Regions from separate parts of the Homo sapiens genome. Here regions 1, 2, 3, 5 and 6 are each linked to region 4. Evidence: fine-mapped QTL for protein levels in blood plasma. A gene starts in region 4. Each other region holds a variant in brackets. All regions are shown on one strand. Distances are from middle to middle.

Region 1 (5,075 bases), 44 kb before region 4:
AATGTATATCTTTATTTTCTTTAATAGAAGAAGTAATCAGTTATGGCATCACAGTATATAACAGAAAATCAGCTTGGGATCACTGAGCATGGCTGTCTTTAAGAGGATGGGGCAGTGAAAGGAGTCCTGGGTGCAGTGAAAATGCCTTCCACCCTTTGGAGAGATGCTGTCATTGGAGAGAAAGAGGGATGCAGTACTGGGTCCAGGAAGGGAAGATGTTGGAATTCATCTTAGGTCTCATGTACCAAGGAAGTGACTCTGTATGAGAACAGAGGGGAAAATCAACAACTGATCAGTGATAACTATGGTATTTTGGCCTTAGGGCTATTAGGGGATGATGAGGGCAAAACTGAGAGGAATGTTAGGGAATCACTTTCTCTAAAGTATCAATATAAATTGACTCTACTTTTGGCACTCACGGAAACAGCAGAAAGAGGACATCACAACCCCTACCTGGACAACTTCTGATCCAGTTTCACCAACAACAGCATCACTCCTTTCAAAGAGCACTCTTGTCTTCCACTGTTACCTTGTATGATTATGTGATTGTTATCGTCCTTATCATTATCACTCTCAAATCACTTGAATTTCTCGCATCCCTCCACTATGTTATCTTCTAAAATAATTTTACTATAAGATGATTTAATCCCATGGAAATTTTTGAGCCCCTATTATGAAGGCTAAATCCTAGGGAATACAAAGATGAGTAAAAGAGTCATTGCTCTTAAGGAGCTCATATCACAAGATTTAGGCAGATTGAAATTGCTAACCAACATTTAACCCAGGTCCAGGTGCTCCTAATTATCTTCCCTATTGGTTTGTCTTGTCCTGTTCATTTATTTAACACATATTTATTTATTTCTTTATTTGAGACGGAGTCTCGCTCTGTCGCCCAGGCTGGAGTGCAGTGGCACGATCTCGGCTCACTGTAAGCTTTGCCTCCCCTGGGTTCACGCCATTCTCCTGCCTCAGCCTCCCCAGTAGCTGGGACTACAGGCACCCGCCACCATGCCTAGCTAATTTTTTGTATTTTTAGTAGAGATGGCGTTTCACCGTGTTAGCCAGGATGGTCTCAATCTCCTGACCTTGTGTGAAAGTGCTGGGACTATAGGAGTGAGCCACTGCGCCCGGCCTTAACACATATTTATTGAGCACCTACTATGTGCTAGGCACTGGGCTAGCCTAAGGATGCAATAGCAACTAAAATAAGCATCATATTTACTTTTAGAGAATATAACTGCAATGTGAAGAATTAGGCTCAATGATATACCTGGTTGACTACAGAAGAAATATTAAGTATTCCTGTCTCTCCTCCACAGAGTGGGGTGCACTCCAGTGCACTCCTCTTCCAACCATTATGTAGTGAAGTTATAGCTGAGACATATTTAGTTCTTATGTGAGTCCAACTTGAGAGGCACCTGACAATAAGAGGACAAATCTCCACTGTAATGCTGAATAGCTGGTAGTCTCATGTCCAGTATTCCTGTGCAAACACCCTTGCAGGAACCAAGTACCCTTCATATTATGCCCTGATTCTATATGGGTTAGACATACACATCAAATAATTTTGGTTTGTCAATAAACAATCTAAATAATAGAAGGTAAAGTCAATTATGTAAAGTTTCCAAAGAAGGATAGGGGAAGAGTTTCCAAGAAAAGTTTTTTCTTATTGGAAGAAGCATATCAGATGAAGGCAAGCATTACTTTATGTATATATGTATGTATGTATGTATTTTAAGGCAGGGTCTGGCACTGTCACTCAGGCCAGAGTGCAGTGGCATGGATCTTGGCTCACTGCAACCTCAGTCTGCTGGGCTCAAGTGATGCTCCCACCTCAGCCTCCCAAGTAGCTGGGACTACAAGCATGCACCACCACATCCAGCTAATTTCTGTATTTTTTTGTAGAGATGGGGTCTTACCATGTTGCCCAGGATGGTCTCGAACTCTTGGCTCAAGTGATCCTCCTGCCTCGGCCTCACATAGTTCTGGGATTACAGATGTGAGCCACCACACCTGGTGGCTCACTAATTTTCACTAATGGCAATAAAACCACTACTTACAATATCAGAGTGTACAACTAATGTATTAGCTGACTAAATAAGGGATGTAGTAAATTTAGTCAGGGCTTCTGCCTATATAGAGTAAGACCCCAAGGCATGGAAGAATGACTCACTGTAATAAACTAAGCCAACTAAATATTGATGAGTGGTGCTCACATAACAGCATAATATTAGAACAGAAAAGAAAATTATAGATTGTACTGGATAACTCATTCAAGCATAAAATTTGGAATCTGATGGTCCTAGGTTCAAAGTCCAACTCAGCTTCCTCTTTGCCACCTCTGTGGCCTTGGGCAACTTGAGCATTTTTAAATTTGAATACTACAGATCTATATTCCTAGCTAGTAGAGTTCTTTCTCTTATGGATTAAATAAAGTAATACAATTGATGTCACATGGTGCACAGTAAGCACTTCATAAATACT[C/T]TAGTCTTCTTTTCATTGTACAGAAAAGGAACAAAAGCCTGGAGGACTGATCTAACTTTCCTGAAGGCCCACAGTTAACCAATGTCAGATCCAGATGAGAGCCCCTGGCTTCCTGACTCCTGGTCCAGCTGGCTGTCTATGATTTCCAAAACAGGGCTGTGCCAAAGACAACTGAAAATACATTTACCTCTGTTTTTTTAAAGCTGAAGAGAATGAAGTAAAAAGAGAGGAGGAGGCTGATGTGGGGTGAGAGGTATAAGAAGCAGATTTACTTTCCTGGTTTTGCATTACCTTCCTGAGTTTACACTGCCTGAGCACACACCCACTAACGGTGGGGGGAAGTGGCAGAGCGTAGCCAACATGGGATTAAAAATTGTGTTACATCAACCCACAAAGTAAATAATCTACCTGCCCACAATTGAAGGGGGTGTAACAGGGTATTGTGTTTTTTCTCACACATAGTTCTTTGGGTCTGCTAGGGTCATTCCAGATCTAATTTTCCAGAAGATCCTATATACGCCTTTCCATTGGAGTTTTGAGCTTGCTAATGTGTGGATTTGGCAGACAAATGCAAATTAAAGAAGATATATATGAAAAATCACTTGTAGCCTAAACATGATTTCTGTGTGGGACTGGTGCTCCACATGGATAAAAAAGCCATGGGCCAGAGACAGGATGCTTGACTCCTTCCCTGCACTGCTGTTAACACTCGGGGGGACCCAAGAAAGGAGATTAACTTCTCTGGGCATCTATTTTGTCACCTATAAAATACCATCAAGTAGTCATTTGAATGCAAGACGTTTGTCACATTTTATTTTTCTGTATCCTTTTAAGAGCTTCATGGGGGCAGATTGTACTCCCACATTACAAGTAAAGAAATAAGGGCTTAGAGATATTGTGACTTGTCCAACGTCATTTAGCTGGTAAGTGGTAGAATCTGACAGAACCTGGATTTGAACCCAGAATCTGCTTTCAACCTCCAAGCTACACTACTTAATATTGTGAGGGAGGGAAAGGATGTTAACCTTCAAAGTACTTTACATCAGTTTAAACAAATGTTCAATACAATCATTTATTAGGGGTATAATTCCTAGGAGGTGCCTGTACTTAAGTCATTTTCAGCTCATTGACTTTCTCATTCATTGCCTCTCATCTGACCTGTGAGCCTCAAACCACAGTTATCCTATTTCATTTCCTTTGTTTTTGGTGTCAGTACTCCTCCCACATTGGCTGATTTCAGGGGGAGCCGGTACCACTTCTCTTCAAGTAGGGGAGTGTAAGTGTAGGAAGCCACTCATACACACACACATAAATATGCGCGTGCACGCACACACACACACACATTCATATTAGTTTGTGATACACATACGTGGTTTCAGAAATTGACAATTTAAGAATATGTCATTATTATGACAGTGCATATATCATGTATAAATAATTCCCCAGAATTGGGGTTGGGTGAAAAAAACGCTGTGATAAGGTGATAGAAAGTGAAGAGACATGTACTAAGGAGAATACTAAGAGACTTAGAACCTTCTGGCTTCAGCCCCCACCTTGAATTTTAAAAGAAGTTCATGAATTTTTTCCTGCTCATTCGGTCTCCTGAAAGATCCTTACCCTTGGTAGGAAATGAGCTTGATACAACCCAGTGTTGTATCAACTGATACTGAGCTTTCACTCTGTTATCTGTATCTGCATTCCAGGTAGTGGTGGTCATCAGACTGTAAACTTTGGAGGCTCAGGGTCACATCTGTGGAATTCTCTCTTCTGTGGTCCGGCATGGCATACAATTAGCAAATTGGTGATGACAACGTTTTTCATTCCTTCTATTGCTTTTTATTTGGTTTGTTCAGGAGACAGACACAAAATATTTTGAGACTCATTTAATTATAGCCCACAACTGTCATGGCATTCAACAAATGCAGTTATTCATTAAATATGTACTTGTTGAACATCATGGTACTATTATTGAACATCACAATAATATTTCATTTTTTGCATTAACCCTTAATGGTTACAAAGTGCATCTATAATTAGTGTCACACCTAGGCTTCCTAAGAATCCTTTGAGAAGGGAGAAAGGGATAAAAGCATTACCTACCTTATGAGGATTTGTGAGAATCATACAATAAAAGACAAAAGTGCTTAGCACTGGAAGCTGATGCAGTGTAAACAATCATGAAATGTTACTACTAGCACAGTTATTAGCCCATATTACTGATGATATACCTCACTTCCTCAAGTTTGCACAGTGAAGTAGTAGAATTCAGCTAAGAATCTGTTTCCAGACCCCAAATCTGTCTTAGGAAACTATCAGTTGAGATCGCAATTATGGAAGGCAAAAAAACAGAGCCTTAAAGGGAGAGCAAACATGACAGGTTTTATGGTGGGTGAGTAGGCAGAAGTGTTTAGGGACCTTATGTGCATTGTCAAGTGCTCAGGGGAGAGGGTGAGGCCCAGGCTATGTACCACAGGCAGCTGTACAATTCATTTTTGGTTCCTCAAATGTTCTATCTTCCCTCAGCACCTTCACATAGAATGTGTTCCTTCTCCCCTGTCTTATTCTCTGTCTTCACCTCTCTTCCCAACACT
Region 2 (5,075 bases), 80 kb before region 4:
GTCACGCATTGCATTAGACTCCTCTGCTTTCTTCTTTCACCTCTAACTAGACTATTAACCAAAAATTTTTTAATATAACTTTCAAAAGGTATTTTATTACATCATTTCCATCCTTTATGTTTGGGTTCAAGCCCTCATTAACTTTAACATGGATTCTTGGAGTACCCTCCTTACTGATTTTGTTACACATGTCCCTCTTTTAGTCAGTACTACCATGATAATACCATGGATAATAATTTTTTCATTTTTATTTTTAGTCTTGCTCTGTCGCCGAGGCTAGAGTGCAGTGGCGCGATCTCAGCTCACTGCAACCTCCACCTCCCGGGTTCAAGTGATTCTCCTGCCTCAGCCTACTGAGTAGCTGGGATTACAGGCACCTGCCACAGCTCCTGGCTAATTTTTGTATTTTTAGTAGAGATGGAGTTTCACCGTCTTGAACTCCTGACCTCATGATCCACCCTCCTCGGCCTCCCAAAGTGCTGGGATTACAGGCATGGGCCACTGCGCCCGGCCAATAATTTTTGTGTGTGTGTGTGCTAATCATACTACATTTTCTTTAGAATAAAAGATCACATACTTGTTTGCCATTCGCAGTCTGGCCCCATTGTGCCATTCTAGACTTACCTCCTGCCACTCCCCACCAGCTTTGTTTTGTCTTAGCCACACAAAATAATCTAGCGTCTCTAACCAGTCAAACATTTTACCTTGTGCCTTGGCTCACTCTGTGCCTTTTCTCCAGAATATCTTTCTGTGTACTTTTCTCCCATCCTTTTACCTTTAAACCTGCTGCTATGGTTTGCATGTTGTTTGGCCCCTCCAAAACTCATGTTGTAGTTCAATTGCCAATGTAATAGTGTTGGGAGATGGTACTTTTAAGAGGTAATTAGGTTGCTAAGATGGATTAACATCTTTCTCTTGACACTGAGACTGGGTTCTCCTGGGAATGGTTAGTTCCCAAGAGAGTGAGTTGTTATAAAACAATGCTGCCTCTTCTATTTTGCGCTTTTTGTTTGCACAAACTCGGTCCCCTTCTGTTTCTCTACGATGTTTTGATGCAGCATGAGGCAGTCATGAGAACCCACCAGATACAGCTGCCTGATCCTGAATTTCCCAGCCAACAGAACCAAGTGCTAAATAAAACTCTTTTTAATAAGTTACCCACTCTCAGGTATTCTATTATCGCAACAGAAAACAGTTTAAGACACCTGCTAGGCTCCTAACCTTGAGGGGCTAGAAAACAAAGCCAGAGGTCCAATACCAGCCTCCTCAGAGTTAGAACACACAGCTCATGAGTGCTGAGCTCAGCCTTGGCCCCTACAGTCTTCCAGAAATGAGGCCACTTGGCTGAGCCCATTATATGCAATATTCAGACCACCAAGGGCATCAAAGAAGACAAAAGCAGAAAAACCTATCCAAGAAACAGCAACTTCAAAGGTTGAAGCAACATCAGACCACACAGGTGAGAACCAGCACAAGAACTCCGGCAACTCAAAAAGCCAGAGTGCCTTCTTACCTTCAAGCAACTGCACTATTTCCTCAACAGTGGTTCTTAACCAGGCTGACATGACAAAAATAGAGTTCTGAATATGGATAACTTTGAGGAACATAGATGCAAAAATCCTCAATGACTCAATTTGCTGGACTAGCAAACCAAGCCCAGCAGCATGTCAAAAACGAATCCACCACAATCAAGCAAGCTTTATCCCTGGGATGCAAGTTTGGTTCAACATATGCAAATCAATAAATGTGATTCATCACATAAACAACTAAAAACAAAAACCACATGGTCATCTCAATAGATGCAGAAAGGGCTTTCAATAAAATTCAACATCCCTTCATGTTAAAAACCCTCAGCAAACTAGGCATTAGAGGAACATACTTCAAAATAAGAGCCATCTATGATAAGCCCACAGCCAACATCATACTGAATGGGCCAAATGCTAGAAATACTCCCTGTGAGAACCAGAATAAGACAAAGATGCCCACTCTCACCAATCCTATTCAACATAGTACTGAGAGTCCTAGTCAGAGATAACCTGTTAGAGAAAGAAATATAAGACATCCAAGGAAAAGAGGAAGTCAAACTATCTCTGCAGACAATATGATTCTGTAGAAAACCCCATAGTCTTTGCCTAAAAGCTCTTTGATCTGATAAACAATTAGCAAAGTTTCAGGATACAAAATTAATGTACAAAAATTAGTGGCATTTCTATACACCAATAGCATTCAATCTGAGGGTCAAAATCAAGAATGCAATCTCATTCACAATAGCCATACACACACAAAAATACCTAGAAATATAGATAACAAGGGAGGTGAAAGATCTCTACAAAAAGAATTACAACACTACTCAAATCAGAGATGACACAAACAAATGGAAAAAGATTCCATGCTCATGGATAGGAAGAATTAGTGTTGTTAAAATGGCTGTACTTCCCAATGCAGTTTATGGATTCAATGCTATTCCTATGAAACTACCAGTGACATACTTCACAGAATTAGAAAAAAAAA[C/T]TTTTAAAATTCATATGGAACTTAAAAAAGAGCCTGAATAGCCATAACAATCTTAAGCAAAATGAACAAAGCTGAAGGCATTACACTACCCAATTTCAACTATAATACAAGGCTTCGGTAACCAAAACAGCAGGGTACTGGTACAAAAACAGACACATAGACCAATGGAACAGAAAAGAGCCCAGAAATAATGCTGCACACCTATGATCTGATATTTGAAAAAAGTTGACAAAAACAAGCAATGAGAAAAGGACTCCCTATTCAATAAATGGTGCTGAAATAAGTGGCTAGCCATATGCATAAGATTGAAACTGGACCCCTTCCCTTTGCCATATACAAAAATCAACTCATATGAAGTAAAGACTTAGATATAAAACCTAAAACTATAAAAGCCGTGGAAGGTAGCCTGGGAAATACTATTCTGGAATAGGACCTGGCAAAGATTTCATAACAAAGATGCCAAAAACAATTGCAACTAAAACAAAAATTGACAAATGGAATCTAATTAAAGAGCTTTAGCATAGCCAAAAACAAACAAACAAAACAGTGAACACGGTAAACAGATAACCTACAGAATGAGAGAAAATATTTGCAAACTATGCATCCTAGAGAAGTCTAATATCCAGAATTTATAAGGAACTTTATAAGCAAAAAACAACCTCATTAAAAAGTGGGCAAATGACACGAACAGACATTTTTCAAAAAGACATACATGTGGCCAAGAAGCATATGAAAAAATGTTCCACATCACTAATAATTAGAGAAATGCAAATCTAAACCACAATGAGATACCATCTCATACCAATCAGAATGGCTATTAAAAAGTCAAAAAGCAATAGATGCTGGCGTGGTTGCAGAGAAAATGGAACACTTATATACTGCTAATGGGAATGTAAATTAGTTCAGCCGTTGTGCAAAGCACTTTGGTGATTTCTCAAAGAACCTGAAACAATTACCACTCGACCCAGCAATCCCATTATTGGATATATACCTAAAGGAATATAGATTGTTCTGCCATAAAGACACATGCACGCATATGTTCATCGCAGCACTATTCACGATAGCAAAGACATGGAATCAACCTAAATGCCCATCAGTGGTAGTCTGGATAAAGAAAATGTGGTACACGTACACCGTGGAATATACACAGCCATAAAAAAATAAGATTATGTTCTTTGCAGCAACATGGATGGAGCTGGAGGCAATTATCCCAAGCTAAATTATGTAGGAACAGAAAACCAAATACCGCATATTCTCACTTATAAGCGGGAGCTAAACATTGAGTACACATGTACACAAGGGAACAACAGACACCAAGGCCTACTTAACGGTAGAGGGTGGGAGGAGGGAGAGGACAGAAAAACTACCTATTGGGTACTGTGCTTATTACCAGGTAACAAAATAATCTGTACACCAAAACCTTAAAGAAAAGTTTTTTAAAAATGTAAAATAAAGCATATAGCAAAACAAACAAGACACCTGGTAAAGTTCTGCTCTTCCTTCAAAGACCCAGCTCAAATGTCTCTTTCATAAAGCCTTTCTGACATTCTCATACCCCCCTACTCTCTGACCTGGGAGAAGCTGTGTTTTCATTCTCCCACAATAACTTGTTCATATTTCTATTATAAAACCTACAAATTTAAACTAGCTGTCAGTGCATACTTGTTTGTCTCCTTGGCTATGTGCCTTATGAGATGCCTGGGATAGAGATCAATTATTATTCAATTTGAATCCTTGGCATTGGGTACAGTGGCTGACACATTGGAGGTGTGCAACAAATATTCATGGTATAAGTTCACTGAATTACAGAGATGTATGCATAAGTTTTTTGGAACTGGGTTTCATGAATCATAGGTACACACAATTTGAATAAAAGAAGAAAACAAAAGTGGGGCAAAACGGTGTAGGTCTAGTAATGAAATGGGAAAAGAAAGGCACATTGAAAAGTCGCAACAAAAGAGAGAACCAGTACAATTATATCAACATATAGTAAACACATTGGAGAAGGGAAAAAAATACAGCAAGTGAAATTGATTCTTTGGTGGCAGAAACAATTGAAAGGTATGGAGGCAAAGAAGGAGGAGAAATTAAGGCATAGAGATAAATTAGACTTGGGGAGAAAGCACAGAAGTCAAATATAGCAACAAATCTTGGACTGGGAATGTTTCCAATTGACCATTATGCTTACGATTACTTTTATGTTGTGGAGACAATATTTAATGAGCATTTCAGATCTGTTAACTAATTTTTTGAAAAAGTGACTCCAGTTCAGTGATAAATACCTTGACCAATATGCCATATAAAGTAAGAAATATTTTACCATACCCAAGAAACTGGTTTTACCGGCTTAGTTTTGACCAACTGATGGCAATTTGTACCTGCTAAACTCCCAATTTTTTACTTGCTGGTTGTGTAGGTAGGCAGTGAGGTTTGTTGGACTGGGCATGCAGGGACAAGCAGTTAGGCCAATACATGGACTGAAGATTATATCTATTTATCTGCCTTTTGTTTAGCTATTTGCATAAATATACAGAGTGGGTTTATTTGCACACTTAGAGCTTTAG
Region 3 (5,075 bases), 61 kb before region 4:
CCAGACTAGGAGTATGGAGACCTGGGTTCTGGGTTCACCTCTGATGCAGGCTGTGTGACATTAAGCAAATCCTAACCTCTTGGGACTGTCTTTTCATCTGCAAAATGAAGAGGTAGAATTTAGTAAGTTTGAGTCCCATCAATGCTTAAAATTCTATAATTCAGAAAGGCAGGCCATTCTACCTAGTTTCATCCCGCTTTAGCTCAGCCTTACTCAGATATGCTGGCCAGATGTTTCTAATCTTACACATAAAAGACTCTGGTATTCAGAGGCCAAAAGAAACTGGACAATTTAAGAAAAGTACTAAGCGGATGAGTTTTCCTTCTGTCTGATTCTTAAACAGCTACATGACTATTATTCAAACTTAAGAAAACAGGAAAAGAAAAGCAAGTATGCATATTTAGGTTTGAATCAACTATGTGAATATTTAGCCATGAAGAAAAGTGTGTTTTTTTGTGTGTGTTTTATTAATTATTATTTGTACAACAACCAAAAAGTAGACGTCAGCAGTTTTCAACTGTAACTATAACCTTGTACCATGTGGCTGTGGGCCGAAGTGCAGGAGGGAGTAGCTGGAAGGGAATCTGGCTAGAGCCTTCCCCTGCTCTGGAAAGCTCGTGGCTTTGTTTTTTTCACATTGCTACACCGAGACGGAGGAGAGGAGGATGTTTGGGTTTACAGGCCACCAGCCACTGTCAGCAAGTTTGTAGCCCCAGCTTCACTTCCCTGAAAGGGCGGGGGAGTTTCAGCTGCCCTGGCCTCCCTCCAGCAACTGAGCCACAGAGGATTCAAATACCCCATCAGTTGCAAGGCCCTGACTTTACCCAGCTGAAAACTGACTATCTCATCTGGGAAGGGTCAGTTAAAAAATGACAGAACTGCCTAAAGTAAACAAAGGGAACAACCACAACAGAAACTTTCTCTGCAGTGTTTCCTTATAATTACCGGCCCATCCCACCAGGGCTCTGGCTTGAGTCCCCATCCACTCTCCCTGTTGCCCCCACAGGACCTTGTTTGAGTAAGCCCTAGCTGACCTGAGGATCGCCTCCCTGTCTACATGCCTCTGTCCCGCCCTCTCCATGGAGGGGAGGGAGACTCCCGATTGCAGGAAGTTTTGAGAATGGAGTTTGAGGATTGTCAGGCAAAAAGACCCTCTAGAGCTCATTCATTAGGACCCCTAATAGATGAGTAAACAGCTTAAATGAAGTGCCTAAAGTTGAGAGCAAGTATGGGACAGAACTGGTTTTCTTCTTGCTAACCAAGTGCTCTTTCCAGTAATCATATACCGTTGTAAGGGACTAAAGATAAGGAAACTAACATTGAAGTTCTTTCTCCACCTTTTCATTCTAACCAAATCCTACTTTGTCGGACTTTTACACTTTATAGATAGGCTGGGCATGGTGGCTCACACCTGTAATCCCAGCACTTTGGGAGGTTGAGGTAAGTGGATGATGATGTCAGGAGTTCAAGACCAGCCTTGCCAATATGGTGAAACCCCATCTCTACTAAAAATAAAAACAAAAAAAAAATTAGCTGGGTGTGGTGGCGGGCGCCTGTAATCCCAGCTACTCAGGAGGCTGAGGCAGAGAATTGCTTGAACCCGGCAGGCGGATGTTGCAGTGAGCTGAGATCATGCCACTGCACTCCAGCCTGGCTGACAGAGCGAGACTCAATCTCAAAAAAACAAAAACAGAAAAACACGCTTTATAGATAAACATATTTTGAATTTAGACTTAAGGACAAGGACTAAATCTTACACTCTGTGTACCTTGTTCGTACTTCAGAGTTCATGAAGTGTGTTCATGGTCAGCAGCCAAGTAGAGTGGGTAGGACATTTGCTTCAGAGTTGAGCAAGCCTCAGAATCCCATCTCTGCACATTCTAGCTGTGTAAACTTGTAGGCAGATTACCTACTCTAAAACTTAGTTTCCACATTTGCAAAAGGGGAACAATAATAGCTCCACCTCATTATTTTGTCATGAGGATTTCATGAGATGATACATGTAATGCACATTGAAAAACTCAACAAATGTTAGAAATTGTAAATAGGTCTGGAAGGCATTTATCATTCCCATTTTACAGATGAGAAAATTAAAGCTCAGAGAGTTTAAGGGCTAGAGTCATACAATTGGTTAGTAAGATAGCTAGGATTTAGCTCAGCCTCCCAGCTCCATATCCACAGTACTTGCTGCCCCACCATTGAGTGTAGACAATTGGGGATGGCTCTAAGCTATGGGCCAAATATGTCTGTCCCTATCATCATGGAATGACATGTTATTTATTAAGCCCATATATGCTTGAGGTGCCAGGAAATGGATGCTTCTGGGGTGAGGTAGGCTCTTCATGTGCAGCCTTCATGTACAGATTCCAGCCAAGGAAATCAAGCCTGGCACTAATCCCTTGTCCAAGCCCAGAGACGCTGTGCCCACGGAGTAGGTCAGAAGTCCTTGAATATCCTCAGCTTTCCTTTCCTCTGGCAATGCTTCCTTGATGCCCTAAGAATATTTTGCTTACCCTGACATTAGAGCCCTCTTCACACTCCCAAGCTTTCTAGTATTTTGGGTGTGCATCTGATTCTCCTGTTGAAACTGGACTCCAAAGTGAAGTGCTCAAAATGGTACATAGAGGTATGAGAAAAACATATGTGAATACTTGCTTCTATTTATTTTTTAATCTAAAATATTAAGAAAATTAGGCTTTACTAATATTAAAATGTCACAGTAGAGTG[T/G]ATGGAATTTATAGCAAACATGCAATTATTAGGCATGTATGCTGGTTTTCTTTTCTTTCTTTCTTTTTTTTTTGATGGAGTGGTATGAAGAAAAGAGACTAGAGGTAACTGTTCTAGAAAGTAAGCTCCTACAGGCAGAAGATGTGTCTTTTTCTAATGTGTATTCTACCCCTCCCTCATTGGCACTAAATGACTCCTCCCTGATTAAATAAATTTGGTATCTATGTAAACTTGGTGGTCTTTCTTGCTTTTCCCCTCCTTTTGTCATCCATCTGATATAATGTCTTACTCAATATTCTCCCAAGACCTGAACAAATAATAAAGCTGTGTTAGTAAAGAGTGCAAATTGCCATAAAAAGACTGAAAAGTAAGATTCATAGTCCCCAAGGAGATGGTTAATGGTAGTCAATAAGGCATATAGTGGGCAAAAGAAAAGCTAAATGTAAAACTTCATGGAAGAACTCATGGACACAGTCAGGCAGGGAGCCCCAGCACTACAGTCTGAGAAATCAAATGTAATCTGAGCATATGTGTGTTTTCAAACTAACCACTGCCCTCTCTCTCCTCTGAAACTTGCAGAAAGCAATGCAACACAATGCAATGAGCCAGGGTCTTGGAGAAAGAAAGAAATCCCAACTCTGTCACTGTCCTGGTTGGGTGATCTTGGGCAAGGTCCATAATCACCCCCACTCCCAGGAAAAATAGTTCTTCACCTACAAATGAGGTTGAGCTAGATGATTTTGGAGGTTACTTTCATGTTTTGAAGCAGCCCATGTTTTCTTCCTGAGGCAATTTATACTTCAAGTGACACCATGAAGCTCACTGGACCAAAAATATCACCTTACCACCAAGCCTTTCATGGTTTGTGACATCCTCTCCTCAGGCACCATGTCTCCATGCGGTGCTTCCCAACCTAGCAATAACTTACTGGCATGAATCCACTTCAAGTATCAGTTATGTCCATGATGCATGTAGAGTGGGAAAGCAAGATATGAAAGGTTATATATGTGGTATGCGTATGTCTATAAATACCTACAAATATATGTGCATACACATAGAAAAAGAACTGAAAGATACTCAGCATACTTTCAACACTGATTATTCCTAGGGAGTAGGAAAGCAAGATGAAGGTATGAATTTTACCATTTACTTTAAATCCTCCTATATTTTTGTTGTTTTTTAAAAATAAATGATTTTACTATTTACAAATAAAAATTTTAAAAAATAAACATTAAAGTCCTATACAAATGTTTAATAATATTTATAATAAGTAGCACCAGTTTCTTCAAGAAGCCCTACCAGAAGCAAATCTGCATCTTGATACTGCATTAGAGCCTTGGCTGAAGTACTAATAATACCCGAACATTCTATGGAGGATTGGGCCCTGGACTGGGAGAACCTAATCACATAATCAGAAACTCTTATGAGTAATTTTGGGCAACTTGAGTTTTCCCAAACTTTACTTGAGTTTGTTTTTCTCAACTAGAAAACAATGCTTTTGAACTAAATCCTCTATCGGGAACTTTCTACTCTGAAGTCCTGTGATTCTTAACAACAGTACATGCAAAAGACACAGGAAAGTGAGTATGTCATATGGCATCCAGGATACTTTCCCCCAAAGCAAAGTGAAAACTGATGTGAAACTCCTTCTTCCTTCCTTATTTTCCTCTCTCTCTCTCTCTCCACCTCTGTTATCTAAATGCTCTATATTTGAAGCATTCATCACTTTATAGGCCTTGATGGGATACAGAGGACAACCTTTTACTTTAGAAGCTGAAAATGTCAGATACTTCTTTTCCAGCTTCCCTTACAGGTATGCATAGGCATAAGGATCTGCATTGCTTTTTGACTCAGGAGCTAGTGACCTCAAATAGCAAAGACTGCTGAATCTGTTCTGCAGCAGGGAGTGGCATTAGTTGTAATAACAACACTCATTTTTTAGATGCTACAGTGGTGGTGGTTCTGGTGGTTCTAGCAGCAGGGACCAGCATCCAGGCTTGGGGCATTCACCGAGCAGTGGTTTCCATGCAGTGGGGGCATTGATGACTTCATGATATTGTTCTGCAGTACAATTTTAGGTGTTGCTTCTGGCTATGTAGCCTCTAAACCTGGGTTTCTAGTCCTCCTGGAGAGCTTGTGAACTACCTAATATTTTTTAATAAATTCATTTACTGCTTAGATTAACTATAAATTGTTTCTGTTGCTTGCGACCGAAAACATTTACTAATGTACCTATTATTTTTTTAAAAATCATGCACTTGGAGATTATATATATATACACACACATATGTTTTTAAGGGAAAAAAACTCCCCTTCCCTTTGTTGATCCCTTATTTTCCCAGTTTCTT
Region 4 (5,075 bases):
GTAACACTGTGGGTAAACAACTGAAAAATAATGTTATCTTTCTCTGAACATACTTGCACAAGACAAATTCCAAAAATATTTTGACTACATTATTTTTGAAAAGGGTTTCCAGTATTTCAATGTGACTACTTTCACTAATGGTACTTGCTTACCTAAAGTGCTTGTTAACATGCAGTTTTGGAACTTCATAGGTCTATGCCCATACTGACTTGTACTTGCTTAGTGTTGTTTCACATTCTAGTTCAACATCTATTATGTGATAGACACTGGGGATTAATAGGCTGTGGTCTTTGCCCATGAGGACCTCAAAACTTAGTTGAGAACACAGAAATACAAAGAGTCCTGTGTGAAAAATAAGTATCGGTGTTAAGATAAAGAAGCGGCAGTGGAAGACAGTGGAGGGACTGTCTGTTAGGGGGAGGAATTTATTGCGGTGTCGGCAAAGCCTTCTTTGGACTGAAGGATGAATTATGATTAGAAGTTCATTAAGAGGAGGAGGGAAGGGGACTACAGGAGTCATTCCAAGCCAAAGGAACAAAAGATACAGGGACAGAAACAGCAAGATATGTTTGGGGGAATCTCAAGTTAGTCAATACTGTTATTGTGTGAAGTTCACAACAGGGGCAGGGAGGACAGGAGATGGGGCCCAATGACGAAAAGGCCTTGTATGTACCATGTTTAGAAGTTTGAATTTTATCCTATAGGAGTCAGGGAGAGGTTCTATGGGTAGGATTTCCCATCCCAACAGGATTGTAAACTCCCACATCCAATTAGTCACACCTCCATTTTTTTTTTCTGTTTCTTTAACATTGTCTCGGATTCATTCCTTCTGAAATCTACCTTATTAGTTCAGGTCTTCTTAAATTTGTGCCTGGACTGTTCACCAACTCTTGACTGGTCCTGGGGCTCCAGTTCACCTCTTGCTCCCCCAACAATCAATTTTCTACAGAATTATCAGAGCAATCTTCCTTTCCATCAATCTCAACTCTGTTCAAAAACTTTCAATAGTTTTATGTGACCTAAGAGGTAGCTGCCTCCCCACCCTTTCAGCTTGCCATTCAAGGCTGCATAATTTGGTCCCAACCCCCTTTCCGTCCTTGACTCCTCTCACTGCTAACAGAGACAGAACTCATTTACTTACTCTTTTGACTGTACCTTTGCTTTCACGAGGGCTCTTTCCTGGAATGATATGTCCATACAACTATTGTTGCTGTTCTTACTTTTAGCTCTTTTCTTAGAAGCCCACTTGTACCCAGGTTTGATCACACCCCCTACTCTCCTGCCCTGGAAGTAACTACTATTCTGGTTATAGTCTCTTAATATCTATATCTATATATATGCATCCACAGATAATGTGTAGTATTGTCTTGAAAAAAATATACATAAATGGTATACTTTGTCTCCCTCTGTGATTAGTTTTTTCACTATCATTTAGTTTTTAAGATTTATCCCTATTGACATAAATAGCTATAGTCTTTTCAATTACTGTGTTGCATTTCATTTTATAAATATACCATACATTATTCATCCATTCCTCTAAGGGTGGGCATTTATGTTGTTTTCAAGGTTTTGCTATTACAGTGTTACAACGAATATCCTTAGCTTAGCTGGTCTCCTTGTCTTATACAAATTTTACTGACCTTTCAAGATCCTGCTTTCATCCCAGCTCCTCTGGGAAAGCCTTCCCTGAATCCCCCAGCCCACAGCGGCAAAGTCTTGGTACTCAAAGTTGCTTGTGCATCTTTGGTATCATCCCACTGCCAAGCACACAGCTACGCAAAGTAAGGCACTTAAGAAATATTCGCTACACGGATGAACAAATGAATGAATGAATGGGGCAGCACCACTCCGTGATGGCTCTATTCCTTTTTAATGGACTTTGGCGCCTTGGCCCACTTTCCTTCTTTGACAGCACTGGTCCTACTCCAGAGCATTCCTCTAGCTAGCAAAGCAGTGTGTGGATGTGTGGGTGTAGGTGGCGATACAGACCTCACTGGATGAGGACCGCCTCTCCCTGCAAGTTCACGATCCCGGCAAACTCCAGTGCTTGAAGTTCAGAGTCCTACCCCACCCCCCTCACCCCCACGCCCCTTCTGCACTGGTCAAGCCAGCGAGCCGCTGCAGCCCTGATCGAGTTAAGGCGCGGCGGCCCCCGGGGCCGCTGGAGAAGGATGCGGACGGGGCCAGTGACTCGTAGTAGATCCCTCCGCGCGGAGCTCGGGCCGGCGCTTCTTCCTGCGGGAAACCCCTGGGTGCCCAAGGCGGCGGGGCCGAGGCCGCGGCGACAGTGGGGCGGGGCTTGCGGTGGGAGGAGGCGGCTGAGGCGGAAGGACACACGAGGCTGCTTCGTTGCACACCCGAGAAAGTTTCAGCCAAACTTCGGGCGGCGGCTGAGGCGGCGGCCGAGGAGCGGCGGACTCGGGGCGCGGGGAGTCGAGGCATTTGCGCCTGGGCTTCGGAGCGTAGCGCCAGGGCCTGAGCCTTTGAAGCAGGAGGAGGGGAGGAGAGAGTGGGGCTCCTCTATCGGGACCCCCTCCCCATGTGGATCTGCCCAGGCGGCGGCGGCGGCGGCGGAGGAGGAGGCGACCGAGAAGATGCCCGCCCTGCGCCCCGCTCTGCTGTGGGCGCTGCTGGCGCTCTGGCTGTGCTGCGCGGCCCCCGCGCATGGTGAGTATCGGGCTGAGGGGCGCTGTCCGCGGCGCCCGGGGCTGCCACCTGGGGCGACCCTTCTCCCCCTCGGTCCTTCTCTGTGTGGGAAGGCCAGGCTCGGCCGCCGGCGCGGAGCGAGGCCACTCGCTGGGTTCCCAAGAGTTTGGACATCGCCGGGGGCCCCTCCCGTGGTGCCCCGCCAACCGCCGGGGTTCCCCGCCGCCTCTGCTCCCCGCGGCCCGGGACCCCTTACACGCCTCCTCGGCAGGAGGGAGGCCGGCAGCAAGTCTCAGAAACTCCTTTTTCGTAGTGCCAGGGTGCAGGGAGGTGGGCAGTTTTGCCCTTCAGGTTCCGCGTTTCTTGGGGTCGAGCGAGAGCCGACGGCGGGCCTCGGAGGGGCTGAGCGAAGGAATGCCAGATTCTGGCGTGGAGAGCGGGGGCAGGGCCGCCAAGCCAAACGGCCTGCACCGTCGCAGCCAGCCTCGCCTTTGCCAGGGGGCGGCACATGGGCCGGGTGTGTGGGCTTGGTTTGGATGGGGACGGGGTTTTGCGGCGCGCCTGAGTTTTGACACTCCAACCCCACCGAAAGTCCGGGGGAGCCGTGTGTGCTGCTCGCGTCTTTGAAAGGTGGAGGCAGGAGAAGTAGGGCAACTGGTGTGGCTGCATGCTGAGGCACATGATTTAAAAATCTCAACTGCTGTTATTCTTTCCGAGGCGCGGAGCTCTGCTGCTGTTTCAGGCTGTGTCCAGACCCAGGAATGTGGTGTGACGATCACCAATTCCTCCAACCTGGCAGCAGCATTTGCTGCTCCTTTGGCATGGCTGGGGGTGGGGCACGGGCGGGTGAGAAAAAGTGGATACGTTAATTCAAAGGGCTTCCTTAGAAAGCTTCTTTATGGTTGGATGTTTCTAACACGGTTGGACCAAGGAAAGGGAATCAAATCATATCTTCCCCATCCCACCCACACTTTTAGATTCTACATTTCTTCAGACCCTTTAGTGGAAATAACTTGGGCTTTGGAGCCCTGCTCTGTAATCCTGGATTCAAATCCAGCTCTGCTATATGAACTCACCAATAAAATGGGAAAGAAATTATCCAGCTAATAGGATTAATTAAAATAATGTATATTAAACGGATGACACTCCAAAGGTGTTCAGAAAGTCCTTTCAGGGCCGAGGCTGTGTTTTACTGCTTCTGAGATTGATGCTCCCAGTGGGATGCTGTCTTGTGCATATTTGTTGAACGGAAAGCAGCCCCTTCTTTTTCTGAGCCTAATCTGAATAAAGATTTTTACCTTCACCAAAAAACTAGTACATGAACTACATCTGTTTTCAAAGAAAAGGTTAGGAAGATGATGAGCTTCAGAAAAATATGGTCTTTGTTCATTGTTAACAGTCAGTCGACATGTCAATCGCAGATGTTTAAAAAGAGAACAAGGTTATTTATCACCCGAAAATAGTACTGGGTTGTTCAGCACCAACTAGATACTTCTTGGAAAGTTCAAATTTCGTACACGTCTAGGTCACTAAGAATTTCAGAAGTGGACCAGGAGGCTTTGTAGTGATGAAGCAGAGCCGTTGTTTCTGAAGCATTTAATAAAGAGCATATATGATGGTGTTTTTGCTTTTCCTTTTTCTTTGAGTGAAAGCTTTAAGTGTAGCTTTAGGATAGAGAGGAGTATGATCAATGAGACAGTCTGAGGGTAATAATCCTTGGTCTATCATTAACTTGTTTTGGTAAATAACTTAATCTTCATGATATGTAGTCTCCTCACCTATGAAGCAGGACTAAAGGAATAACCTGCTTTAGAGAATTGTAGGGAATAATAAATATAATTGTAAAGTGATTTGAAAAATTAAGTATTAAATAATATGATATCAGAAATGGGATTACTCTGACACATAGGGCTTCTTTTATTATAGGATCTCAGTGCATAAAACTATGCCCTCCACCTCTGCTCTGCTGAGGTGCTGCGATTATTAGCTAGCTTTTAGGTAGTCAAGTTGAGTGTTAGTCAAGTTGACTCAAAGGATAGGATTTAGATATTTTGATTTTTAGACAGGTGTTCTTTAGATGCTAAACTAATGCAGTAGAAGAGATTTAGAAGCCGTTTCTCGGTACAAATCTTAAATCTTCTTAGAGTCTACAGTGAAGGCTTCTTGAATCCTCTTAATTTATTATTGTGTTTTGCTAAGGTACCAGTTGCAGCACACCCTTCTAAACTTTTGAGTGTTCCTGTGTTTGGCTTGTGGCCAATTGTTAATTTAAACATCACGGAGTTTCTAAGGCAAGGAGATGTTAGCAGTATGTCTGATTGTCTAAACAGCTATCCAGGACCATCCTCTTGCTCCTTGTTTTCTTTTGCTTTGCAATGGGAAGTGACTCCCTGATTTTGCTGCCTGCTAGATAATTTCTCAGCTGAATT
Region 5 (5,075 bases), 1.3 Mb before region 4:
TATTTATTTATTTATTTATTTTGAGATGGAGTCTCGCTCTGTCGCCCAGGCTGGAGTGCAGTGGCGCGATCTCTGCTCACTGCAAGCTCCGCCTCCTGGGTTCACGCCATTCTCCTGCCTCAGCTTCCCCAGTAGCTGGGACCACAGGTGCCTGCCATCACGCCTGGCCAATTTTTTTGTATTTTTAGTAGAGGCAGGGTTTCACCATGTTAGCCAGGATGGTCTCGATCTCCGGACCTCGTGATCTGCCCACCTCAGCCTCCCAAAGTGCTAGGATTACAGGCGTGAGCCACCGTGCCCAGCCTGGTTATTTTGAATAATGCTGTTATGAACATTTGTGTATAAGTTCTTGTGTGAGCATATGTTTTCAATTCTCTTGGGTATACACCTAGATGTGGAATTGATGGGTCACAGGTTAATTCTATGCTTAAGTTTTGGAGGAATTTTCAGTTTTCCATAGCATCTGCACCATTTCACAATCTCACCAGCAATGTATGAGGGTTCTGATTCCTCCATACCCTCTCCAAAACTCTTCTTTCCTTTTCTTTCTTCCTTTTTAAAATTATAGCTATCCTAGTGGGTGTGAAGTGGTGTTTCATTGTGGTTTTGATTTGCAGTAGCCCAATAAATAACAGTGTCAAAAATGTGCTTGTTGGCCATTTGTGTATCTTCTGTGGAGAAATGCCTATTCAAGTCTTTTGCCCATTTTTAAACTGGACTGGTCATCTTTTTGTTGCTGAGTTGTAAGAATTCTTTATATATTCTGAAAATTAGACCTTGATGAGATATATGATTTGAAAATACCTTTTCTCATTCTATAGCTGTCTTTTCATTTTCTTGACAGTGTCCTCTCAAACACAGAGGTTTCTGACTTTGATGAAGTTCAATTTATTTATTTTTTCTTTTGTTGCTTGTGCTTTGGTGTCATATGTAAGAAATCATTGCCTAATCCAAGATCATGAAGACTTACACCTATATTTTCTTCTAAGAGTTTTATAGTTTTGGCTTTTGCATTTATGCCTTTGATCCATTTTGAGTTATTTTTTTTTATTATTTCCAGGTTTGTTTTTATAATTTAATCTCATAAACATATTAAACATAGTTAATTTAAAGTTTGCATCTGTTAACACCATTACTAGGATCTCCTGTGTGTCTAGCTGTTTCTCTTAGCTTTTGGTCACAGTTCTTATTTCCTCATAGGCCTAATTATTTATAACTGAGTGCCAAACATAATAATGAAAAATGATGAGAGATATATTAGGTCTAGGATGATAGTATCTTCCACAGTATCTTCCTCTAGAGAGGATTTAAATTTGTTTCTAGCCACTGGCTATCCTAAATCACCTTAATCCAATTAGAGGTTAAGATAATTTGAATCCAGGCTTCAGTCTCTATGAAACTGCCTTAGTCTATTTCTGGCTTATCTTTCCTTCTTAATTGTATCCCTTTGGTGTCTCAAAGCCTGGGGAATTTTACCAAGGCTACCCATCCTGGGCCTCTGGGCCTTAAATTTCCATATTTGTCCTGCTAGCCCTACAAGTCTATTAAACACTCTGCTCAGCTTTTTGACACTCAGTAATATTTTCTAAAATGGCAGAAGCCTCTTCAAGGAAAGCAGCTCCCATGAAGCAAAAGGATTGGTCTGAATTTTCTTCTAGAAAAGCTTCCATTTCTAGAAGCACAACTCTAAGTTTAAATTTTGAAAACAGATTATCTTATGTTTATTTGTAGCCCTCACCAGGCCCAGTGCAATTCTGGAAACCTAATAAGAATGGAAATATGCTTTGTTTGATACAATGAACAGATACTGGTGATAGTGAAGGCTTGCCACACTTACGTTTTAAGTTGTTCATTTCCCAGGACGTGGTAACCAAAGCATTCTGGTAAAACAAGAGAGAAGCAAGCCTGAGGTTTCAAGTATGGTTTCACATTACTTCCTTAGGGACTTTTCAAAAACCACACTCCATCAAACAGAAAAAGGAGGTTAAATCTACCTCAAATAAAGGACATCTCTGAAATTAGCTGAATGATTAAGAATCCAGATACTAATCTCAGAGATCCTCTGGTGACCACCAAATGGAGGAACTCTACAAGAAATTCTAAAAATTGGCACGTATAAAAGCTCTATATGGGGCCATCTGGGGTCTGAGAAAGATTTGGGCATCTAGTTCCTGAGACATATGTGAAAATGTCAGCTTCACCAGCCACCTCAAATTCTGTAACAGCACACTGGCTTTTCCTAAGTGGCACTAGCATAAAAAAA[T/C]TGAAAGAAGTAATCACTGACTTCGAATTCTCTTTCCAATAAGTGGCCATACGCTGTTCATTTCTCCTTCATGATATGTCTGGCATCTGTCTCCTTCTTTTCATTCCTCCTGTCACTGCTACCACATCTCAGGCTCTTATTACCCTGTCCTGGAATTAGAGGCCCAGTCTTTTGGAAATAGCAGCAATATTTTATCATTTCCCTATGAGTAGGTCTTCCATCGTTCCCTAGTGCTCTCAGAATGAAGTTCAAACTCCAAGTTTGGCATTCGAGGCTCTTTTCGGCTTTGTTTCAAGCTGCTCTCCTCATTAACACTCTGATTTAGCCAAACTATTTTTACTCACCACCCTCTGAAGAGTCCTCACACATTCCGGTGCTCTCCTTCATCCTGAAGCCTGTTCTTCCATATGGAATATCCTTTGACTCCAGCTCCCCCTCCATGCTCACAAACTCCGTACTTTTTCATCTTTAATTACTGAAATCATTTTCATTCACTAAAAACCCAGCTCAAATTTCACCTCTCTACATCTCTCTGCACAAAAAGCACTTAGTACTTACAGACGCTAAAGCTTAGAGAGGTCAAAAAATTTGTCCATGAGAACAACTATTAATTGGTGAAGTTGGAATTGAACTCATAAACTCCTTCAATGCTATTTTGTCTTATCTGTATTCTCCTAATCTTATACAATGCCTTGCATATAGTAAGCACCTAATAATTACAGAGCAAAGACAGGGGGAAGAAAGGCCATAAATTTTCACAGCAAGAAAGACATATACAAAAGAATATTCTTGATGTATCAGTTTTTAAATTCATCAGATATATACTGCAGAAAAGGTTGTGATTCCATCTGTTAAAAAGAGAATCATACAAGCAGAACTATAAAAATAAGCTGCTAGAATATTCTGGTTAAAGGAAAGAAATCTAAAACTCAATCAGCTTTAAATCCATTTGCTACATTGGGATTGTTGGCAGTTCAAAGGGCAAATGGCAAAAGCATGTCTCACCACGCACCCTGGCCACAGTGCAGATGGAACTCAGCCAAGGGGTTACCCAGCTAGAAAGCATTACTGCTTTCCCACTGACCAGGGCAGTCCTGTGGAAGCCTTCAACAGCCCATGTGTTCTTTGCTTTGGTCTTGGGACTTAAGGATAAATGAGATGAGGATGGTGGGTAAATGACAAGGGTAGGCACTGTCTTGGGGGCACTGCTTCTCATTCTTGCCCTACAGAGTTCAGGCAACAGTCTTCTTGGGGAGCCCCAAGGAAGGGGGTGGAAAGAGGCTGAAGACAATGGGGGCTTTCAGGAGTCCCCTTAATACCCAGAGAAGCAAGGAGCAGAGCAAAGGTTCAAACACCCAGGGGAAAGGAAATCGCTTCTTGATCCCTTCCAAACACAAGGACCATGATCAAAGAATTGCTTGCTGTAGTTATCGCAAAAAGAAAACAACAACAGGCCTTCCTGCATTCCTGCCTTTCCATGCCAGGCTGTCCTCTCCCCATGATCGTCCCCACCCCCCAAATCCTGGGGACAATTGAGCTGTGTCTCTGGCATGTGTGGAGCTGCAGGTCACGGCCATATTTAACGAGAACATTCATTCTCCACAGGCGCTACAGGGCTCCTCAAAACACCCTTTGTGTCACTGTGCCTTTCTCTCCACAGCCCTTGACACTAATTTAATCAAGATGTCCTTCTAGCTTGTAGATGGGGTGGACTCGTCAGTTCTGCATTCCTCCTGGCATTAGGGCTTTGCAGCCAAATATGTAGACTTAAAACCAGCAAGTTGAGATGGGGTCAGGGTCTCCAAGCCAGAGCATGCAGACCTTTTGGGTAAACCCTAGGCATAAAGAGTGGACTAGCTCTGTGGTATGTTTTTATAATTTTTAGTTAACCCTAAATATTCTGGAGGAGTTGAGAAATATTTTCTTAGGCAAGTATGTAGACATTTAGAAGCATTTTTTTTTAAAGCAAGAAAAAAGACAAAATTTTATCTCTATATTTTTGGACTCATCAGTACTGTTTCTAGAATGCAGAACTAGAAAAAATAGCTCCTTGTCACAACTATGCCTGTCCTTTTTCTCCTAGTCTGCACTCTCCATAATTTTGCAAAATCTGAAAACTTCAGTTCTTTCCCAAGAACCAGATTTTAATTCAGATTTGCCTTCCTTAGCTGTTTCTCTAGACCACAGTCAGTATCCAGAAGAGAATGTCAAAACTGCGGTAGGGAATTTAACCAATAAGGAAAATAAAAAAATAAACCATCTAGAGCCCTGGGTCCCCAACCAGGTTACCTGATTCCTGGTCTAATGTTCATTTCCTATGCTGTGGTAGCTCCCAAAGAGGGCATCACTGCTCATCAGTACCCCTACCCCGGCCCTGAGTTGATTTGTGGACACCAAGCCAAACATTTGAAGTGTGAGTATTATGGGCCAGAAGGAGTCAAATGCATTTGAGGAGGGCATGAGGCAGGCCCAGGGAACTCAGACAATCTATCTTAGGAGCTGATTTGAATGTGTGTTGAAATTCTTCTGTCAACCACAGATCCAACTGTCATGACCTCCCGCCTGGGACATGTAACTATTCCTTCCATCATCTGCCTGCCAGTTTAATCAGCTCACATCAGCAGCGGCAGAAAAATATTCAAAGGGCTATTGTTTCATGACCCACAAGGGCATTTTCAGAAACCCAGTAAGACTCCAGAATATAAGAGGGGTGTACCCTCTATAGATTTTGGAGCAAAAAGCTCAACTCCCTATCCTTAACTCTTTCTTCTCTCGCCTAGGTCAAGTAGGCCATTGACCTGGGGTCAGGAAC
Region 6 (5,075 bases), 170 kb after region 4:
GATAATAGTAGTACCTATAACCTAGGGTCATGGTGAAGATTTAATGGGCTGATTTATGCAGAGCATAGCGGGGTGTGTAGCATGAAACGAGCCAGTCTTCCATAAGTACTGCTTATTATCAGCCCTAAGGCCATGCTTTCTGCCAACAGACAACATTGCTTGGTACAAGAGCTTTTAACTAGTCTCCCTGACTCAAGCCTGTTCCTTTTTAACCTTTCCTTGTAATTCAGCCAGATGGAATCTCCCAGGAACAAAACTGAAAATATTCCTCTCTTATCAGAATCCCTCAGAATCACCTCATGACCTTCCGATTTGCCCTTTTACGGACGATAAACCCTTCCATTTTCTGAGCCAGAGGCTTCTTCCTTTGTGGAGTCAGCCTCATCGCTCGACTAGGAACATAACCAGCTATCTACCTTTCTCAGAAAGCACTTGGGTTTGCTCTTATAACAGGCACTTTTTCTAGGTTCTTCCCACCATTGCACATGGACACACAAAAATTACACTGACCCCTGGCACCCCAAAGACAAACAGCAGAAAGCACTCCCAGGCAAAATGAGCTCAGGACCTTTCTGTTGCCTGGGCCCACAACTAAGGTTCAGGGCCTTCTCTAAAAAGAAGCCGCAGCCGAAGACAGAGGAACTGCCCAGAGTGGGGCTGGGGGTGTGGAGTCTACGCTGATACTTTCAGGCTGTTTCCACTCTTGCTGGTTCTGATGCTCCTTTCTTTTGCCACAAGCAACCCTAGTGGAAAACTGGGAAATGTCCAACAATGAAGTTAGGACAGTGGCCCATAAAACATCGGATTCCAACCTGTGTCCTAAGGTGTAAAGACACAGAGTAAAGGCAAAGATACAGTGAGCCTTTAACACGTTCTCCTTTGTTCTTCCTATTTCTCTATTCCTTCTCCATTTCCGATGGTGTTCTCTACCCTCTCTCCAACCCACGTGCCAACAGCCCCTCTTTTCTCTTTTATTCTCGCCCACGTTTCCCTCCTTTCTTCCACCTGCGCCCAACGGTACGGCCCGGAAAACGAACTGGATGCGTTGGACAGGTCACGCGCGCATTGCGGACGCCAGCTAGACCGAGCCCTGGGAGGCTACGGGCTCCCCCGGAAACCCTGCCAGGGGAGCCGGGTTTTGAGCTCAGGCGCCTCTAGCGGCGGCCCCCAGAAATCTGACTCGCGAGGCCAGAGTTGCAGGGACTGAATAGCAAACTGAGGCTGAGTAGGGAACAGACCATGAGGTCAGTGCAGATCTTCCTCTCCCAATGCCGTTTGCTCCTTCTACTAGTTCCGACAATGCTCCTTAAGTCTCTTGGCGAAGATGTAATTTTTCACCCTGAAGGGGAGTTTGACTCGTATGAAGTCACCATTCCTGAGAAGCTGAGCTTCCGGGGAGAGGTGCAGGGTGTGGTCAGTCCCGTGTCCTACCTACTGCAGTTAAAAGGCAAGAAGCACGTCCTCCATTTGTGGCCCAAGAGACTTCTGTTGCCCCGACATCTGCGCGTTTTCTCCTTCACAGAACATGGGGAACTGCTGGAGGATCATCCTTACATACCAAAGGACTGCAACTACATGGGCTCCGTGAAAGAGTCTCTGGACTCTAAAGCTACTATAAGCACATGCATGGGGGGTCTCCGAGGTGTATTTAACATTGATGCCAAACATTACCAAATTGAGCCCCTCAAGGCCTCTCCCAGTTTTGAACATGTCGTCTATCTCCTGAAGAAAGAGCAGTTTGGGAATCAGGTTTGTGGCTTAAGTGATGATGAAATAGAATGGCAGATGGCCCCTTATGAGAATAAGGCGAGGCTAAGGGACTTTCCTGGATCCTATAAACACCCAAAGTACTTGGAATTGATCCTACTCTTTGATCAAAGTAGGTATAGGTTTGTGAACAACAATCTTTCTCAAGTCATACATGATGCCATTCTTTTGACTGGGATTATGGACACCTACTTTCAAGATGTTCGTATGAGGATACACTTAAAGGCTCTTGAAGTATGGACAGATTTTAACAAAATACGCGTTGGATATCCAGAGTTAGCTGAAGTTTTAGGCAGATTTGTAATATATAAAAAAAGTGTATTAAATGCTCGCCTGTCATCAGATTGGGCACATTTATATCTTCAAAGAAAATATAATGATGCTCTTGCATGGTCGTTTGGAAAAGTGTGTTCTCTAGAATATGCTGGATCAGTGAGTACTTTACTAGATACAAATATCCTTGCCCCTGCTACCTGGTCTGCTCATGAGCTGGGTCATGCTGTAGGAATGTCACATGATGAACAATACTGCCAATGTAGGGGTAGGCTTAATTGCATCATGGGCTCAGGACGCACTGGGTTTAGCAATTGCAGTTATATCTCTTTTTTTAAACATATCTCTTCGGGAGCAACATGTCTAAATAATATCCCAGGACTAGGTTATGTGCTTAAGAGATGTGGAAACAAAATTGTGGAGGACAATGAGGAATGTGA[C/T]TGTGGTTCCACAGAGGAGTGTCAGAAAGATCGGTGTTGCCAATCAAATTGTAAGTTGCAACCAGGTGCCAACTGTAGCATTGGACTTTGCTGTCATGATTGTCGGTTTCGTCCATCTGGATACGTGTGTAGGCAGGAAGGAAATGAATGTGACCTTGCAGAGTACTGCGACGGGAATTCAAGTTCCTGCCCAAATGACGTTTATAAGCAGGATGGAACCCCTTGCAAGTATGAAGGCCGTTGTTTCAGGAAGGGGTGCAGATCCAGATATATGCAGTGCCAAAGCATTTTTGGACCTGATGCCATGGAGGCTCCTAGTGAGTGCTATGATGCAGTTAACTTAATAGGTGATCAATTTGGTAACTGTGAGATTACAGGAATTCGAAATTTTAAAAAGTGTGAAAGTGCAAATTCAATATGTGGCAGGCTACAGTGTATAAATGTTGAAACCATCCCTGATTTGCCAGAGCATACGACTATAATTTCTACTCATTTACAGGCAGAAAATCTCATGTGCTGGGGCACAGGCTATCATCTATCCATGAAACCCATGGGAATACCTGACCTAGGTATGATAAATGATGGCACCTCCTGTGGAGAAGGCCGGGTATGTTTTAAAAAAAATTGCGTCAATAGCTCAGTCCTGCAGTTTGACTGTTTGCCTGAGAAATGCAATACCCGGGGTGTTTGCAACAACAGAAAAAACTGCCACTGCATGTATGGGTGGGCACCTCCATTCTGTGAGGAAGTGGGGTATGGAGGAAGCATTGACAGTGGGCCTCCAGGACTGCTCAGAGGGGCGATTCCCTCGTCAATTTGGGTTGTGTCCATCATAATGTTTCGCCTTATTTTATTAATCCTTTCAGTGGTTTTTGTGTTTTTCCGGCAAGTGATAGGAAACCACTTAAAACCCAAACAGGAAAAAATGCCACTATCCAAAGCAAAAACTGAACAGGAAGAATCTAAAACAAAAACTGTACAGGAAGAATCTAAAACAAAAACTGGACAGGAAGAATCTGAAGCAAAAACTGGACAGGAAGAATCTAAAGCAAAAACTGGACAGGAAGAATCTAAAGCAAACATTGAAAGTAAACGACCCAAAGCAAAGAGTGTCAAGAAACAAAAAAAGTAACCGGGCAATCCATACTCATTCAGTAACACAGGCTCATTTATTTAACCAGCTAATCATTTATCCAAAGGCTTTCCATTCTTCTCCCAATATTTTTTTACTTTAATTTTTCCCACAAGTTTTGATCAGCAAATAAACAGCATTCTTGTTTTGGAAACAAACCAGTGCATTCTACTTCTCGAGTGTTCACTTGCCCCTCAGTTTGTGACCAAGTTGTGGGTATTCTGAGAATCATGCTCTAATGGCTTTTCCATACACTAAAGCTCTGAAAGTAGTGAGTTTCCTAGAATTACCATGCTATTCAAGGTATAGTCTTGTTTCTCAGAATCCCAGGGAACAAAGCAATTGTCTGCCTCTCCCTCTGCCTCCCTCAACTTGATCCATGTGAACATCCGCACCTGCACCCATGCTGATCAATAAATGCCGACAACACATTTTATGAATAGAAAATGATTCTATAAGCATTTTCAGTATTTGGGGTGATCTCAGGTGGGTTAATGACGCTGAGCTGTCCTAACTCTTGCATTGCACCACAGTGCAATGATGACAAGATGATGCCAGGCCCTGGCAGTGTCCTGGGGCAAGGCTGTTAAGAAAATTTTGTGTTTGCAGTGTCTGCTTGCAGAGGCAGAGCTTTTGTGAGTGCGTGTGTGCTGAATGACACCTGGCCCTATGTTTGCCACTCTCCTAAGTAGCACAGAGGAGGAGTGAGGAACGCCTTTCAAGGACCCCCGTGTCTCTGCCTCCACATCTTCCTTCCCGTTTGCACAGTGATTTTGGTGGGAGGAGAGGACTGAGGGGTGCCTTGGCAGGAGTCAGTATCCACTTCTTATATCCAAGGGGGGATTGTCCCTCTCAGATTTGTGTCAGGCTAAGTTTTTTGGTCTTGCTCTAGGCTGGGTCTTCCTGCTTTTCTCTCATCTTACCTCAGTGCTCCTCTCCCTCCTCAGGCAACACCGCAGGCCTGCAGTGCCCCATCCCAATCTCCTGTTTCTTTTTTTTTTTTTTTTTTTTTTTTTTTTGAGACTGAGTCTTGCTCTCTCGCCCAGGCTGGAGTGCCGTGGTGCGATCTCAGCTCACTACAAACTCTGCCTCCAGGGTTCACGTCATTCTCCTGCCTCAGCCTCCTGAGTAGCTGGGACTACAGGTGCCCGCCACCACGCGCAGCTAAGTTTTTGTATTTTTAGTATAGACGGGGTTTCACCGTGTTAGCCAGGATGGTCTCGATCTCCCAACCTCATGATCCACCTGCCTTGGCCTCCCAAAGTGCTGGGATTACAGGCGTGAGCCACCACGCTCGGCCTCCTGTTTCTTAGTCACACTTCTAATGAAAGATGAACTTGCGGCAGTCTCACAGGGAAGGTTGGTCCCCAGACTGTTTTTTCTCAGCATATGTGCCAGCAGCCTTCTAAGAGCTACATGTGTATTATTAACATGCATACTGCTGACAACAGCTCCATGAGATA

Direction of the effects. Alleles are on the strand shown, and positions count from the first base shown. The strength of an association depends on the size of the effect and on how common the allele is.
With allele T in place of C in region 1, the plasma level of the protein whose gene starts at base 2,339 in region 4 is lower (strong association).
For the plasma level of the protein whose gene starts at base 2,339 in region 4, allele T in region 2 goes with a lower level than allele C (moderate association).
For the plasma level of the protein whose gene starts at base 2,339 in region 4, G is the low allele of the variant in region 3 and T is the other (strong association).
In carriers of allele C in region 5, the plasma level of the protein whose gene starts at base 2,339 in region 4 tends to be lower than with T alone (weak association).
In carriers of allele C in region 6, the plasma level of the protein whose gene starts at base 2,339 in region 4 tends to be higher than with T alone (moderate association).

Evidence for each region. PIP is the chance, under the fine-mapping model, that this variant and not a neighbour inherited with it causes the effect. Protein levels are from antibody-based Olink assays in UK Biobank. Linkage for the fine-mapping came from a reference panel and not from the study's own genotypes, which makes the PIPs less certain.
Region 1: its variant is fine-mapped to the plasma level of the NOTCH2 protein (UK Biobank, PIP above 0.99).
Region 2: its variant is fine-mapped to the plasma level of the NOTCH2 protein (UK Biobank, PIP 0.93).
Region 3: its variant is fine-mapped to the plasma level of the NOTCH2 protein (UK Biobank, PIP above 0.99).
Region 5: its variant is fine-mapped to the plasma level of the NOTCH2 protein (UK Biobank, PIP 0.98).
Region 6: its variant is fine-mapped to the plasma level of the NOTCH2 protein (UK Biobank, PIP above 0.99).

What each region holds. Positions count from the first base shown.
Region 1 is chr1:120,111,069-120,116,143 of GRCh38, reverse strand. No RefSeq gene overlaps it. Among named protein-coding and RNA genes, the nearest start is that of NOTCH2, 44 kb to the right of the region's middle. The variant C/T (reference allele first, on the strand shown) is at 2,485.
Region 2 is chr1:120,146,839-120,151,913 of GRCh38, reverse strand. SEC22B (SEC22 homolog B, vesicle trafficking protein) reads left to right here. Exons shown (of 5, transcript NM_004892.6): 5 at 1-1,016. Among named protein-coding and RNA genes, the nearest start is that of SEC22B, 27 kb to the left of the region's middle. The variant C/T (reference allele first, on the strand shown) is at 2,512.
Region 3 is chr1:120,127,734-120,132,808 of GRCh38, reverse strand. No RefSeq gene overlaps it. Among named protein-coding and RNA genes, the nearest start is that of SEC22B, 46 kb to the left of the region's middle. The variant T/G (reference allele first, on the strand shown) is at 2,728.
Region 4 is chr1:120,066,926-120,072,000 of GRCh38, reverse strand. It overlaps NOTCH2 (notch receptor 2), which reads left to right and starts at 2,339. Exons shown (of 34, transcript NM_024408.4): 1 at 2,339-2,667. The coding sequence starts at 2,595. It overlaps LOC101929178 (a long non-coding RNA gene), which reads right to left and starts at 2,173. Exons shown (of 2, transcript XR_254374.4): 1 at 1,990-2,173.
Region 5 is chr1:121,346,557-121,351,631 of GRCh38, reverse strand. The region is part of intron 4 of SRGAP2C (SLIT-ROBO Rho GTPase activating protein 2C); the gene reads right to left. LOC107985193 (a long non-coding RNA gene) reads right to left here and starts at 2,694. Exons shown (of 2, transcript XR_001738200.3): 1 at 2,608-2,694; 2 at 1,832-1,880. The variant T/C (reference allele first, on the strand shown) is at 2,264.
Region 6 is chr1:119,892,501-119,897,575 of GRCh38, reverse strand. It overlaps ADAM30 (ADAM metallopeptidase domain 30), which reads left to right and starts at 1,061. Exons shown (of 1, transcript NM_021794.4): 1 at 1,061-4,043. The coding sequence starts at 1,240. The coding sequence ends at 3,612. The variant C/T (reference allele first, on the strand shown) is at 2,481.